Regions from separate parts of the Homo sapiens genome. Here region 2 is linked to region 1. A link means that fine-mapping ties the variant in region 1 to the expression of a gene that starts in the linked region. Tissue or cell type: whole blood. Region 1 holds a variant in brackets; the other region holds the start of a gene. All regions are shown on one strand. Distances are from middle to middle.

The links.
Region 2: PDE5A starts here. The variant in region 1 is fine-mapped to the expression of PDE5A in whole blood (INTERVAL, PIP 0.94).

What each region holds. Positions count from the first base shown.
Region 1 is chr4:119,591,174-119,596,173 of GRCh38, reverse strand. All of the region lies in intron 3 of PDE5A (phosphodiesterase 5A), which reads left to right. Among named protein-coding and RNA genes, the nearest start is that of PDE5A, 35 kb to the left of the region's middle. The variant C/AC (reference allele first, on the strand shown) is at 2,042.
Region 2 is chr4:119,626,844-119,632,359 of GRCh38, reverse strand. PDE5A (phosphodiesterase 5A) reads left to right here and starts at 3,556. Exons shown (of 21, transcript NM_001083.4): 1 at 3,556-3,840. The coding sequence starts at 3,689. LOC107986192 (a long non-coding RNA gene) reads right to left here and starts at 4,570. Exons shown (of 1, transcript NR_165235.1): 1 at 1,605-4,570. RefSeq lists silencers at 3,223-3,622, 4,843-5,122 and an enhancer at 4,663-4,712.

The DNA.
Region 1 (5,000 bases):
GCTCATCCAACTACAGTGGTCATTAACGGATTTCATTCAAATTGAGGTTTTGAAAAAAATGGAAATCATAGCTAATTCTAATTATGTAAATTTCAATTTGAAATTTTAACAGGCAAATGAAAATATGTTAGTTTATATTTCACCTAACTAGAAGATTTGGATTCTGTTATCACTGAATTCCCTCTTCATTTTACACTTATTTGGAAAAAAGAGTTAATAAATTATCAGTTAAACTGAATATTTCAATTGAGCATTCTCAATCCTGACTGTGTATTACAACCAACTGGAGAAGTCTAAAAGATTACCAATTGTATTAATTGGGGTTCTCCACAGAAACAGAATCAATAGGATATATGAGGATATATGAGGGGATTTATTTATGGAAATTAGCTCATGCAATTATGGAGACCAAGAGGTCCCACAGTCTGCCATCTTCAAGCTGGAGAACAGGAAAACCTGTGGTGTAATTCAGTCTGAGGCTGAAGGCCTGAGAAATGGGAGATTTGCTGGTGTGAGTCCTAGAATCCAAGGATCTGAGTATTTGAAGTTCTGTTGTCTCAGAGGAGGGAGAAGATGGATGTCCCAGCTTCCGAAGAGAGAGCAATATATGCTCTTCCTCTGCCTTTTTGTTCTGTTTGGGCCCTTAGTGGATTGGATGATGCCCACCTACATTGGTGAGGGAGAATCTTTTTCACTCAGTCTACTGATTCAAATGCTAATTTCTTCTGGGAACACCCTCACAGACACACGCGGAAATGTTTTACCAGTTATCTGGGTATAGCATTTAAAAATTCTAATGCCGAGGTTTCACCTTAAATCAGAATCTCAGGGATTGGGACCCAGGTATTAGTATTTGTTAAAGCTCCCAAATGACTGCAGTGTGTGGCCAAGGTTGAGAACCACTGCCAATCATATTAGAAGTACTTGATGCTTCTACTTGATTTATATTCAAATTCTGACATTTATTCTCCTTCCTCCATCTAGTGTGTTACCAAACCCCATTGATTTTTTTCATTAGAATGTTTCTGATTTCAATATTTTTTTCTTTTTATTCGTGCTACCTGCATGCACCATGATTCAGATTTTGAAGTAATGCCTAAGGTTTTTAAATGTTCTTGTAAGGTGTTTCTATCCTTGCAGTCAATTTCCCTTTAGTCCATTCTACATATCACTGCCTGGAAATTTGCCTAAAACACAGCTTTCTAAATCAGTGCTTCTAAAACTGTGTTGTGCATAGGAATCACCTGGGGATTTTGTTAAAATGCAGATTCTGAATTCAGTAGGTCTGGGTAGAACCTGAGATTCTTTTCTAACAAGTACCAAGTTGATGATTACCTGGGTCTGCTGATCACAATTTGATTAACAAGGCCCTAAGTCAGTTACTTCTCAGTAGTCATTCTCAGTGCCTTAGAGTTGCCACATGGTTTCTTAAAAAGTGTAGTTCCAGCAGTAGTAACTAAAAATGCCTGCAGCAATGACGTAATATGAGATTAATTAATTAGTTTAATTAACTAAGTATGTGAATGAATACATAAAATTGAAAAGGCCATACATGGACTGATCATTATTGTGTTATTAATATGGTTGCCAGGTATATCAAATTTTTAAAGAAATGTGTCCCATGCATTATTTGGGACATCATTATACTAAGAAATTATTTGTTGTTTATCTGAACTCAAATCCAACTCAAATTTCATCTGGCAGGCCTAGTTATAAACCACAGACTAAGATTCCGTGCACTTAGGAAGACAATGTTCAGCTTTTAGTTATTAAGGATATTTTAAAATCGTGGCCCCCAAAACAGCTTTGTACCGGCAAAGGGATTCAGCCTGAATTATGCCCTGATTAAGCTTCTCTTTCTAGATAGTGTGAACAATTTCTCCAACAGTCAGGATTGGGGGAACTGATGAGAATGCAACAGAATCACTAGGAAGAAGTGAGTAGGATGGCCCTTTCTACAGAAAGTATCCTCAGGATATACATTCTTCCATATTATGACTGCCGGTGAGGATGATTTAAATTAAATAAAAAATTAAAAAAA[C/AC]ACAGCTATATTGAGATATAATTCGCGTACTGACATGATTTGTCTGTGTCCCCACCCAAAATCTCACCTTAAATTATAATCCCCATAATCCCTACGTATCAAGGGCGGGACCAGGTGGAGGTAATTGGATCATGTGGGCGTTTTCCCCCATGCTGTTCGTGATAGTGAGTGAGTCTCATGAGATCTGATGGTTTTATAAGCATCTGGCATTTCCCCTACTTGTACTCACACCATCCTGCCGCCCAAGGTGTCTGCTTCTCCTTTGCCTTCTGCCATGATTGTAAGTTTCCTGGGGACTCCCCAGCAATGAGGAACTGTGTGTCAATTAAATCTCTTTCCTTTATAAATTACCCAGTCTCAGGTATTTCTTCAGAACAGTGTGAGAACAGATTAATACACATATAATATAATTTACCCAGCTTAAGTGTACAATTTGATGAATTTGAGATATGTATATTCGATCATGTAACCACCACTGCAATCAAGATATAGAACATTTCTGTCACTTCAAATGTTCCCCTGTACCCCTTCATAGTTGATCTCCTCCTCCCTTAACCCACAGCTCCTGACAAGCACTGATCTGCTTTTTGTCACTATTGTTTTGCTTTTTCTAGAATGTCATTTAAATGGAATCATACAGTATGTGGTCTTTTGTATGTAGCTTCTTTCACTTAGCCTAATGGGTGTGAGATTCAGCCCTACTGTTGGATGTATCAGTAGTTTGTACCTTTTTATTGCTGAGTGATTTATTCCATGGTATGGATATACTACAATTTGTTTATGCATTCATCAGTTGATAAACATTTCAGTTATTTCCAGTTTGTGTCTATTACAAAACAAAGCTGCTGTCAGTGTGTTTGCATACAGACCTTTGTGTGGACTTATGCTTTCACATCTTTTGGGTAAATACATAGGAGGGCAGTTGCTAAGTCATATGGTAGGTATTTATTTAATTTGATAAGAAACTTCCAAACTCTTCCAAAGTAGCTGTACCATATTTCATTCTTATCAGCAGTGTATGAGAGTTCCCCTTACATCACATCCTTGGCAACACATAGTGTATCAGTCTTTTTAATTCTAGGCATTCTACTGAGAGATGATTTAAATTTCATTACATGAATATGTAACCCCACTCTTAGCCAAGGACCTGCTGCCTTCTTACAGATCTGATTGAAGTGGGTTTGGCCACAGATCCCCAAATAGCCCGAAGCTCTCTCCTTTAGACTTCTGCTGGGTTCCTGAGCTTTCTCATGTCTCTCTCTGTGCTCTCACATCCTCTCCTGCTGGTGTCTGTTTTACCTTGTGGTGACTTAATATGAGCCTTGGACTCTTACACTAAGCATTTCATGAGATGAAAAAATCTTCAGTAGCTTCACTGGGGACTAAATACAGATTGAGTATACCTAATTTGAAAATCCAAAATGCTCCAAAATGTGAAACTTTTTGAGTGCTAACATGACCCTCAAAAGAAATGCTCATTGAAGCATTTTGGATTTTTCTGTTAGGGATGCTCAACTGATAATAATGCAAATATTCCAAAATCCAAAAATAATCTAAAACTTGAAACATTTCTAAGTCCCGAGCATTTCGGATAAGGGATGTTCAATCTGTAACTTTATTCAAGAGAGGGCTTCCAGAACACAGCTTTTTTTTTTTTTTTTTTTTTTTTTTTTTTTAAACAGAGTCTCGCTCTGTCACCCAGGCTGGAGTGCAGTGGTGCGATCTCGGCTCACTGCAGCCTCCGCCTCCCGGGTTTGCGCCATTCTCCTGCCTCAGCCTCCTGAGTACCTGGAACTACAGGCGCCCGCCACCACGCCCGGCTAATTTCTTTTTGTATTTTTAGTAGAGACAGGGTTTCACCGTGTTAGCCAGGATAGCTACGATCTCCTGACCTTGTGATCCGCCCACCTCAGCCTCCCAAAATGCTGGGATTACAGGCATGAGCCACCACGCCCGGCTTTTTTTTTTTTTTTTTTTTTTTTGAGACAGAGTCTCACTCTGTCACCAGGCTGGAGTGCAGTGTGGTATGATCTCGGCCCACTGCAACCTCTGCCTCCCGGGTTCAAGCAATTCTCCTGCCTCAGCCTCCTGAGTAGCTGGGACTACAGGCGTGCGCCACCACACCCAGCTAATTTTTGTATTTTTAGTAGAGATGGGATTTCCCCATGTTAGCCAGGATGGTCTCGATCTCTTGACCTCGTGATCCGCCTGCCTCAGCCTCCCAAAGTGCTGGGATTACAGGCGTGAGCCACTGCGCCCGGCCCAGAACACAGCTTTTTAAACATCTTGCTGACCCTCCCCATTCTCCTTCCTTCTCATCTTGCTCCCTTTCCTCCCAGGTTCACACTGCCAAGTTCAAAATTATTTCTCCTGAGAATTAACGTTTTCAGAGAAAAGAATGAAGAGAGACAGAACAGACACACTATCAAGCGTGGCTGTTATAATATAAAAAGTAATTTGGCTGGCCAAAAAATAAACCCAGGCCACTAACAAGGTGCAATATTTGACTTCCAGAATTATCTTTAAATTTATATCTGTATAAACAAACTCAGAGTAGTGTTTGCTTTTTATGTACACATAACTACTCTTTGTCGTGAAAATTTTAAACCAAAATGGAAAGTTGCAGGGAGGCTTTGGGGACTAATTATTAAGATTGCTTGCTCTGGGCTTGAATCCCATCTTTACCACTTAGTTGCTGGCTGACAAACCAGGATGGAACTGGTTAATCCCTTTGATCTTCAGTTTCCTCATCTGCAAAATGAGGGCAATAAAAGGATCTACCTTAAAGGGTTATTGGGAAGATTAAATGCATTCATGTGAGTGAAGGGTTTAACGTAGTTCCTGGCACACTGGAAGTGCATCAGCTACTATTCTTTAAAAGGAGATGTAGAACTAATAGAGCTTTAAAGAGAGACAAGGAATAAGAGCTGCATGAAGAGGTCATTAGCCACATAATAAT
Region 2 (5,516 bases), 36 kb before region 1:
TATGCCTTATATTTCTTTTTTGTGTTTTTGCTTTGTTGCATTTGTTTTTTCTATTTGTATGACCAAAATCTTTAGCAGTACAGGTAGGTAACAACCAAATAATGTAGAACCCCATAAGCCACGTTACAGAGTTTGAATTTTATTTTAGCACAGTGGGAATACATTGAAGGTCTTTAGTTAAGCTGTTGCTCATGAGCAACAAATGAGCAATGACATATATGTATGTATATACACATATATATCATTGATTTTATATATATATATATATATATCTTAGTCCACTTGTGTTGCAATAACAAAATACCACAGACTGGGTCATTTACAAAAATTAAATATATATATACATATACACACATATATATATCATACATATACACATACATACATCATTGCTCATTTGTTTGTTATAAATAGCATTAACAGCATTTTTCAAGTTATATCCTGGGAGTGTTTATGATTTACTTATTCTTCAACTAATTCCATAACAAGATTTGAGGTGCTTAGAACAATTCATGCCAAGTTAAAACAAAATAATTGGGCAAATTGGGATAAAGAATAAAATGGAGTTGAAAAACAAGAGGCCCAGGTAATGTCAGTTCAAAATATGCTTACCTTTAACTACTTTAAATTTACAGGAGGTATAGTTACACATTTTGGCTGAATCTCCCAGAGACTAGAACTGTTTGAGACACTTCTGTTCCCCAATCCCTTGTGATATGTTTCTCAGGTAATAGGCCTTCACAGTAACTCCCAAACTATCATATATACCACACAGACTTGAGATTCACTATTGAGAGAATCTATGTACTGTTTTTCTTTTTTTTTCTTTTTTGTTATAGAGCCGGGGGTCTTACACTGTCACTGAGGCTGAAGTGCAATGGCACGATCATGGCTCACTGCAGCCTTGACCTCCTGGGCTCAATCCTCTTGCCTCAGCCTCTCGAATAACTAGGATTACAGGTGTGTTCCCCCATGCCTGGCTAATTTTTAAAAATTTTGTGTAGAGATGGGGTCATGCCATGTGGCCCAGGCTGGTTCAAACTCCTGAGCTCAAGTATCCTTCTACCTCTCCCTCCCAAAGTTCTGAGATTACAGGAATGAGCCACTGTGCCCAGCCTATAGATTGTTTTTCTTGAAGCAATTTTTCAGAAACCTTCCTGGTTTCTGATAATTTAACCCTTTCAGGTTAGGAGAGAAAAATGAACATTTTGATATTACCCACTGTCTTAGTCCATTTGTGTTGCTGTAATAAAATATCACAGACTGGGATATTTATAAACAATAGAAATTAATTTCTCTCAGTTCTGGAGGCTGGAAACTCCAAAATCAAAGTGCCAGCAGATTTGGCAACTGGTGAGGGCTGCTCTTTGCTTACAAAATGGCACCTTGTTGCTGCATCCTCAGCAAGGGTCAGTGCTGTGTCTTCACATAGTGGAAAGAATAGAAGGGGCCAACTGTCTCCTTTGGGCCTTTTTTTAAAAAGGCACTAATGCATTCACAAAGGCAGAGCCCTAATGGTCTAATCACCACTTAAAGGCACCTCCTCTTAATACTGTTGAATTAGGGATTAAGTTTCAACATGAATTTTGGAGGGAATACAAACATTGAAATGATTATACGTGTTTATTTAATCAAGTATCCAACAAAAGCAAATAATTCAAGCCCCAAATTCACTGCATCTTTAGTAGATAAGCAGAGTTTTAAATTACGATTGATCTCCTGTTAGGAGGAATGCATGGATTTCCACAAGAAAAAACTGTACTGAGGAGAAACTTTCCACAGTAATGTGCCACTTTTCAGTCAACGACAGACCACATATATGAGTCCCATAAGATAATACTATATTTTTACTGTACCTTTTCTATGTTTAGATATGTTTAGACACACAAATATCATTGCATTACAATTGCCTACAGTATTCAGTACAGTAATATGCTGTATAGATTTGTGGTCTAGGAGCAATAGCCTAAGTGTGTAGTAGGCTGAGCCATCTATTTTGTGTTAGTACACTGTGATGTTCAGAGAAGGATGAAATTGCCTAAGGATACATTTCTCAGAATGTATCCTGTTGTTCGGTGACGCATGACTGTATTCCATGAGCACTATAATCACTATCATAGTAACACATTAGGAGAGAATTCTCATTTCTAAATCCAATATAATTTATCACCCATTAGTTCATACTCTACTGCTTTGATTGCTTTTCTTTGGTTGTGGCTACCTGCATACAGCAGTAAAGTTTCAGAAAAACTGAAGTCGCAAAAGGTCAATTACTCAATGAAGGAAAGATAAACCATTGCATTGGGGGACTAGAAGATACTTTTAAAAGTTCTCAGATTATCAATTTAATGATGTGTTTCTATGTAGTGAATAATGCCTTAAATTCTTGCCAAGAGTATTTAGAAGGAAGTTGTCAGAAGTATATCAGCTAACTCATTTTTTTTTATATCACTGCTAATGGTGTCATTCACACATTGTGCAACCCATAATTCCAGATTTAATTCTACCAAAAAATATAGGTCATTGCAAAATGCCATATTAAAACTGCCAATGCATGACAGGAAGATGGGGATGCAGACAAAGCAAAGGATGACACCAATTCCTTTTTTAAAGAAGCAAGATAGGGATTGGACAAAAAGGCTGAGCCATTTTTAATGGATACTTTTGAGGGAGTGTTAATTCCAATTTAATTAAAATGATGCATTAATTTAAAATTGGGATAACTGGTTGCCCTCGACTGCACCTGGGTTGCGCCAGTGCTCTCGGATTAACCTAATTGTACAGAGGTGCCCTTGTTTTCTAACTTCATGCACAAAGCATTGGAAATTATTTGTTTGCTTTTTCTTTTCCAAGTAAATCTTTTTCCAGTTATGCATAAGGGAAGTTTGAGGCAATGGTTAAAGGCACTTAAGTTATAATTATTGCTGTTATCATTAACATTAAGCACGGGTATGGCTTTGTTGCAAGTTACCCACCTACACCTGCAAATCTCTCTTGCTAGCACACGCCCCAGCTCTCTCCACCCGCAGTGGTCCGTGGCTGGACCGCTTTAAGTCACTGAGCGGGCTGGGCTCTGAAGGAGGTCGGTCCCGCTCCTCCCAGACCCAAGCGTAGGGCTAGGGAAAAGCTAGGCGGGAAGGTCATTGCACTCCCAGGCCCCAGGAAAAGGGCCCAGGGTCTCATCATCTCTTACTTTCGGGCAAAACTTCCCACATCGCGACCTTCCCTCCCTGGGGCACTCTGAGAACACACCCAGTCACCTAGCGCGCTCCCCAGAAGTCGGCTTGGCACACAGCGCACCCCAGCGGCCGCGCGGCCTCCTTCCAGCCGCCGCCACTTGGCTTCCGGAGAGCTCGCCGGGCGCTGCCGCTGCCGCCGCCGCCGCCGCCTCCTGGGAACCAGGGGACTGAAGAGCCTGCGAGAGCGGAACACTGCCGGACCCCGGGTGGGGGGGGCGCAGCAGCTGCGCCTGGCCCCGCCCACCACACCTGGGCGCCCGTAGAACCGCGCGGGGCGGGGCGGGGCAGGAGGCTGGCCTGGCGCTCCGGCCGCTTTGTCGAAAGCCGGCCCGACTGGAGCAGGACGAAGGGGGAGGGTCTCGAGGCCGAGTCCTGTTCTTCTGAGGGACGGACCCCAGCTGGGGTGGAAAAGCAGTACCAGAGAGCCTCCGAGGCGCGCGGTGCCAACCATGGAGCGGGCCGGCCCCAGCTTCGGGCAGCAGCGACAGCAGCAGCAGCCCCAGCAGCAGAAGCAGCAGCAGAGGGATCAGGACTCGGTCGAAGCATGGCTGGACGATCACTGGGACTTTACCTTCTCATACTTTGTTAGAAAAGCCACCAGGTAAGAAGAGGACCCACGGAAGACCCGGGGCTGATTTCTCTCCCCTGTTGAATTGTGCCCTTCGTTCACCCCTGTTCCCAGGCCCTTTGCTTTTGAAGTAGGTCCTCGGTCCTGTTACGAGGTAGAAACCTCAACTCTAAGCGAGCACAGTCGAAAAACTCAAGTGTCGGATTTGATACAACTTGCTCACAAAGTTCAAATACAAAAATGTACTTGCCGACCTCCCACCCTCACCCCCGACCCTCTTGGTATTCCCCGGGAACATGATTATTTTCATACATCCGTGCTCACGGGCCTTCCCCTAGCCCCTCTCTAGCCCTCTGGTTCCCCAAAATCCAATCAGCAAAACCCAAACAGTTTCTGAGCCCCTTCCCTGCAGCTCCGGAAGCACCATTTCCAAGTCGGTCTTGATGGCTCCGCTCCTCCCCCGTCCCCCCTCGCCCTGGCCCTGGCTGGGCGGGGAAGCTGGGGTGAGGGACGAGTCCACGGGACAGCCCAAAGGCAACATGACGGAACCTTGCCAAAGTGAGTGCGGTTGCCTTTTCCCCCCTTCCAGTCTCCTGCTTGTCCCGCGCGCCTCCTTTCACTCGCTTTTCCGCCGAAGGCTGTGCCGCCAAAAGTAGAGCTCTGCAGAGGGGTTTGCGGCGTGCACACAAAGGGCGCAGGGGAGGCGCCGCCTGGAGCGGACCCCAAGGGGCAGCGCAGACCCCAGAGGCCAGCTCTTTCTGGTCCAGAGCCAAGCGCCGGGGCGGCCCTTGCGGAGGGCGGGGAGGAGGGAGCCTGTCCTTTTGGAGGCGGCTGCGCAGCGGGCAGTCGGGGCGCTCGTGGGAAACGCTCGCGGGAGAGTTGGGGAGGAATTGAGACTGGGAGCAGAGGGACAAGAAGAGTGGAGCAGAGAGTGCTTGGCGGGCGGGTGCCCCGAAGCCTGAGGAATTGATGCATAGTCGGGGTGCGTGGACTCCAGGACGCGCCCCTTTGCAGAAAGAGTCCGTGCCCCGCTGCCGCCTGCTCTGGGCAGCGGCCGTCGGGCAGCGGGTGCTGGCCGTCTTGGCCGGGAGGGTGACACACGCCCGGCAGTGATGGTCGAGGAGCCCGCCCGGGTTCGACGCCCGGGTCCCACTCGCCGGCGCGCGGCCGCGGCTCTGCCGGTCGCTCCCCGCCAGGGGGCGGCGCAGCGCGGGGCGAGCGGGAGGCGACGGGCGGCGGCGCGGAGGCCGGGGCCGTGAGGGAGCTGGTTCTGAGTCGCCGACCTCACCTCACCTCACCTGCGCGCGTTGTTGCCCCTACGGAGCCTCCTGGAGTCCAGGATCGGCGGAGTTCGAAAACGAACTTCCCACGTTTGCTATGTTGCCCTTTGGAGACAAAACAAGGTACTTCCTTCAGCATCCCCCTACGTCCCTTCCCACTTTTTCCGGGGGCGCGGCGGGTCTCGGGTGCTGGGTGGTGGCGCCCCGGTGGCACCAGTGGGACGATGTATCATTGAAAATTGACTGTATAACTTTTGTTGTTGTTGTTATTCTTTGCTCTCTTGCAGATGTATTAATAAGGGTCTTAAATTGGGCCCTTTTTAATCTTGTTTTGTTTTGTTTTGTTTTGTTTTTTTCCTAAGGAACATCCAGAGTTGGTGTCAATTTAGTCACTTTCAGGGTTTTTTGACAGAGGGGAAGGCTCCGGGA